Regions from separate parts of the Homo sapiens genome. Here region 1 is linked to region 2. Evidence: fine-mapped expression QTL. A gene starts in region 2. The other region holds a variant in brackets. All regions are shown on one strand. Distances are between the middles of the regions. Region 1 overlaps LINC00882 (long intergenic non-protein coding RNA 882). Region 2 holds the start of LINC00882 (long intergenic non-protein coding RNA 882).

Evidence for each region.
Region 1: its variant is fine-mapped to the expression of LINC00882 in lymphoblastoid cells (GTEx, PIP above 0.99).

The regions. Positions count from the first base shown.
Region 1 is chr3:107,201,617-107,204,530 of GRCh38, forward strand. All of the region lies in intron 1 of LINC00882 (long intergenic non-protein coding RNA 882), which reads right to left. Among named protein-coding and RNA genes, the nearest start is that of LINC00882, 38 kb to the right of the region's middle. The variant G/A (reference allele first, on the strand shown) is at 1,277.
Region 2 is chr3:107,239,015-107,241,928 of GRCh38, forward strand. LINC00882 (long intergenic non-protein coding RNA 882) reads right to left here and starts at 1,624. Exons shown (of 4, transcript NR_028303.1): 1 at 1,429-1,624. It overlaps DUBR (DPPA2 upstream binding RNA), which reads left to right and starts at 1,678. Exons shown (of 4, transcript NR_028302.1): 1 at 1,678-2,073.

The DNA of each region.
Region 1 (2,914 bases), 37 kb before region 2:
GAACATGTGCTATGATGGCTGGCTGCTTAAAGAGAAGAGCCACACGAGTCTGAATAGAAATATTAGCAGACAAGAAAGCTCTATTTTCTGATATTATTCCAAATAAACAATGGAAGTTTTTTTTTCCTTTGAAGAATCCAAGAATGGCTTAGAAAATTGTCACATTTCATCTTATTACAGTATTTGTTACTAAGCAAAATATTTTCTAGTGATGAATAACACTAGAAGTTACCAGAGAAGCTCTCTCCTCAGAACTACAAAATTTTTCTTTCTTACCATTCACAAATGTTTCAATAATTTTTTTTTTAACTCTTGGATTTACTCTCCTGTAGAGAACAGCACAACGTTTTCTCCATGTCTCATCAGGATGGTGGAAACAGCAGCCACTGGAAATTCTGCCCACAAATATTCATAAACATATCATCCTGATATAGATAGACCCTTCACAGTTGTCAAAGCACCTTCACTTACATTATCTCATGTAATCTTCACAATGATGAAACAGGAGCAGGGAGGTATATTTTTCCAACAAAAGAGAAACTGAAGCCCAGATAGATGGTTTCTCTGGTTTCTGATGCAATTGCTTCTTCTACCAATGTGTTCCCAAGACAGACCATGGACCTTACTTCCAGGCTGCACCCACGATCACTACACAAACTGCAGTGTTGTTACTAACCTCCACCTGTGATCTATCTCCCTATTTCATCTCAGTGACAAAACTTCCTGGCCTCTGTAGCTCGTTAAATCTTAACCCAATGCCAGAGTTCCCAAAGTAAAATTGTCAGGGGGGATTTAACCTAAGTCTTTCTACCAACTTATTGTTAGTTACATACATCTGCGCCAACAGATGATCATATTAGAAACCAAAATAACAATAACAAACAACAATAATAATAGCAACTCTCAGGTAGCACTATGATAGACTTTTTATTTACTTTATATTTTATCCTCAAAACAACCCTAAAAGGTAAATTATTAGTATTCTTATTTTATACATGAAGAAACTGGGTCTCAGGGAAGTTGAGAACTTTAGTGGGGCCACAGAGCTGGTGGTGATTATGTCAGATTTGAAAGCCAACTTCAGCTGTATTCAACGTGCACCCACTTTTCATAATGGTGCATTGTTTTAAATCTCTGAATTCCCAATATCCGGCATGATGTCTACCACATTGTTAGTGCTCATTGACAGTGTTAGTAATTAAAGACAGAACCAATGTATTAGTCTGTTCTCACACTGCTGATAAAGACATACCCAAGACTGGCTAATTTATAAAGG[G/A]AAGAGGTTTAATGGACTCACAGTTCCACATGGCAGGGGAGGCCTCCCAATCATGGTGGAAGACAAATGAAGAGCAAAGGGACAGCTACCTGGTGGCAAGCAAGAGAGAGCTCATGTAGGGAAACTCCCCTTTATGAAACCATCAGATCTCATGAGACTTATTCACTATCATGAGAACAGCATGGGAAAAACCTAACCACATGATTCAGTTGCTTCCCACCAGGTCCCTCCCATGACACATGGGAATTATGGGAGCTGCAGTTCAAGATGAGATTTGGGTGGGAACACAGCCAAACCATATCAACCAAAACAAGATGTACATTCTCCTGACTGCACTGGACATCTCAATTTTCCTATATGATGCTCACTCCCAGTTTTCTATCCTGTGGGAGCTGCTATCTTGCATTCCTCTTAATTCAGTGGCCTGGAGGAGTTCATGTTGCATATTCTACACTGCTGCTGCCAAAAAATTGCCCTTCACCAGCCCTGAGCATCCTCTGCTGAGGCACACTTGCTCCCTTATGCACTTTCCTACATCTTTATCTCCATCATCTGGTGAGCTCCAGGACACATCCTAAATTCCTTAATAGCTCTAGCCACCTAAGACAAAAATCAACAGCTCCTCATCTGCCACCACATTTTTCTTGACCTTCTCAATGTCAAACAACTACAACTATGATCCACTTCAGCCACTTTGCAGCCTATCATCTCTTGGAAATGCCCCAGCTTGAAAGTTTTCATATTTGTATCTCCCTTCTCTGGCTTCCACCACTCATCTCTCCTTTATTGAACCTGATCATTTTTCTTCCACTTTTTTCAACAATCTGCAGCCTAATAAACAAATCTCCTGCCTCCCTCACACCTTTGCTGTTTCCTTCACCACAACTCTATTCCCTCTACTACAAATATGCTCAATCTTCCATCACCTACAAAATCTTTCCCACAAACCTACTCAAAATCAATTGTTCTTCTATATCTGCCCTTAATATTTGTCCATTTACTTGAAATTTATAATTTGAGTAAGTCCATATGTAGAAATTTAGCCTTTTAGAAATTTACTCCAAAACTATACAAAAAGGCATAAAAAAATTATGGCATGACTTCTGCATATTTCTGCGAAAATGCCTCAAATATCGGGAAAAAAATAATGACATAACGATATCTTTTCACATTAGCAACTTGTTATCCAAATACAAGCAGATCAGGATAACTGGCCAGCCACATGCAGAAGATTGAAACTGGACCACTTCCTTACACCATATACAAAAATCAGCTCAAGATGGATTAAACACTAAATGTAAAACCTAAAACTATAAAAGCCCTGGAAGATAACCTAGGAAATGCCATTCTGTACATAGGCCCTGGCAAAGATTTCATGACAAGCATGCCAAAAGCAACTACAACAAAAACAAAAATTGACAAATGGGACCTAATTAAACTAAAGAAACTCTGCACAGCAAATGAAACTATCAACAGAGTAAACAGACAAGGTACAGAATGAGAGAAAATATTTGCAAATTATATATCCAACAAAGGTCTAATATCCAGAACCTATAAGGAATTTAAACAAACTAACAAGAAAAGACAAACAACCCATTAAAAAGTGGTCAAAAGACATGAACAGACACTTCTCAAGAA
Region 2 (2,914 bases):
TTCAAAATGGATAATCACTGCAATTATATAAAAGTGTAAAAAGAGATACAGATACAATCAACATGAAACTCCTAGAAGCAACAGGAGATTCAATATGGTAGCAAGATACAAAATTAGACATAGAAATCAGTACCTTCATTTATGTAAGAATCTAGCTGTTATAAGGAAAAGTGGAAGAGATAATCCCACTTACGATACCAACAAAAAAGAGAAATACTCTAAGAATAAACTTAACAAGTGAAAAACCTTTATGATGCTTCCTTGAAAGACACAAAGCTGAAACTTGAGCACGAGAAAAAATAAACCTTGCTTTTCAAAAGGAAAATGCAACATCATAAACTGAAAAGGTATGCAGAAGATTTTTTTTTTGAAAGTACTTTTATGGGGCTATATTCTATAGTTAACATGAAAAAATAACCCAGCATTAAAAAAACACTTAAGAAAACAGCAATGATGCAGTCTAGCCCTACCAGATACTGAAATATAGTCTCTAATAAAAACAGTATATTAGCCCATAAGTAGACAATAAGATCAATGCGGGGAAAAAAGAAAATATATCTTAGACCCAATTACAATGTGGAAATTTACGTATGTGATAAAAATATTGCAAATCGCTGGTCAGGGAGGTGCTTTATAAATTAAATGTTATGACAGCTAAAAAGTCATTTGAAAATAGATAAAATTGGATACATCACCTAGGTAGAATTCCTGCATATATGTTTGTGTGTACATATCTATTACTCGTGAATCTTATAATGAGGAACCAATCTGACATCTCCAAATTGAAGGATATTCTGGAAGACCACCGGGCTAGACTTTTCAAAAATGTCAATACCAGGAGAAACAAACAAAAAAGGCTAGGGAACTGCTCTATATTGAAGGAAGCGAAAGAGACTTGACAACTGCAATATGTGGTTCTTATTGATGCACTATGTGATTCTTGTTAAATCTCGGATTTACATTTTACAAACTACAGGGTAAAGAAGGACATTTTGGGACAATTGAGGAAATTCAAATATGAAATATAGATTATTGTAATATAACAATGTTACATTTCCTAAGTATGATGATGTGCATTGTGATCCTGTGGTCCTCAATTGAGGCAACTTTGTACCTCTCCTTTTTCCCCCAACCCTCACCACTACCCCTCCCCCCCTCAACCCCCCCAACCACACCGTTTGGGTTTGGCAGTGTCTGGAGGCATCGTTGGCTGTCACAACTGGGGGAGGGGGTTGCTACTGGCATCTAATGGGTAGAGGCCAAGGATGCTGCTAAATAGTGATTGTTTAGCACAGGACACCCCCACCCCACCCCGTCACCCCACCTTACGGGTACAGACAGCAAAAACTCATCCTGCCCAAAATGTCCATAGCGCGGGGTTGAGAAACCCTGATGTAGAAAAATCCCTTATTCTTAGGGGATACATACTGAGATATTAGGCTGAATCACATGACATTGTCTCTTGCGTAGGTCAAGTATCGGCAATATTTAAGGACGAAAGGTTATGACGTTCACAACAAACTCTCAAAATAATGAACAAGCCCCTTCCGCCCCGGCTGCCCCGCGACCTAGGGGACCCGAGAAGGGCGCACTCGCACGGGCCGCGGAGGCCAACGCCGAGCCTGCGCGGCGGGAGGCGCTGAGAACTCACTGCGCACGCGCCGGTCGGCTGGCCGCACCCACGCGGCGCAGCTCCCAAAGTTGCAGACAGCCCGGCGAACCGCGCAATGCGCTTCTTCTGCCTGCAGCAGAGAAAAGGAAAGAAAACTCCGCAGGGGCTCCGTTGGCTTCTCCACGAGTGACAACCATGTTTTCCCAGATAGAAGACCGGAGCCCTGCTCCTTTGCGATCCGCCGAGGGCTGCAGAGAGCATCCTCATCCATTTGGGCACCCCTGCCCAGGAAGAGCCCGGCCATCCCTTTCCGGACTGGATCCTTAAGAGGTGAATTTTCTTCCGTGGATTCCGATTTGCTCCGTCTGACCAGCCTAGGCAATCCAGCATCGCGTGGTACCAGTGCCGCTGGGCACACTGGCTTCACGCCGGCTCCGCCTCACCAGCAAGCGCATTCCCAGGTAAAAATTTTAAATACCTTAGAATTCTTCTGCCTAGACCCTCTAATCAAGAAGTTTACCCACTTTTTCTGTAAGGAGCCAGAAAGCAAATACTCTAGAATTTGGGCCTGGAACTGTCTCTGTAGCGTATTCGTCTTTGTTTTGAAAATGTAAAAACCACTCTTAGCTGCTGGCCTTACAAAAATAGAATCATGAGGACTGTGAAGATTAGAGCCTAATCACTAATTCACCCAGCACAGAGGCTAGAGCGCCAGTGAGTCCTCCGCCCCTTCCCAGGCCCGACCATAGTTTTGCAGTTAGGACCCAGGTTTTGTGAGGACTGGGACCCACCCAGGTTTAGTTCACAGTCTCTTGAATCCCTCCCTGCACCTGCACCTCTGCTCCTCCCCCTAGGCCGGTGGCCCTTGGTGAGTTTCTGGCAGTCTCCTAGGCCACCAGGAAACACTCCGACCAACTGCCACGCCCTCCTTTGCTCCAAAATGACAAGCTCTTTTCATCTGGGAGCAAAAGCTGAAGTCCCCACATTTGAACTAAATTAGTTTAGTGTAAAAGTAGTACAAGATTATCTCAGACAATTGTATTTTAATAGTATTTTTTTCTAGTGATAAATGTAATATATGTCTACTATGGTCATTTGGAAAATTCTGAGACGTATAGAGCAGAAAAGAAATTCTCCATAACCCTAACCCACAAAAAATAACTTTTGAAATGCTTGTGTATTTTTTAATTCTTTTTTAATGCATATTATAGGACAACTTACTGAACATTTGGATTTTTAGAAATATTTTTAATAAAACGTGTTGAAGTACAGCATACAAAAAAGTGTACAAATTACAAATAC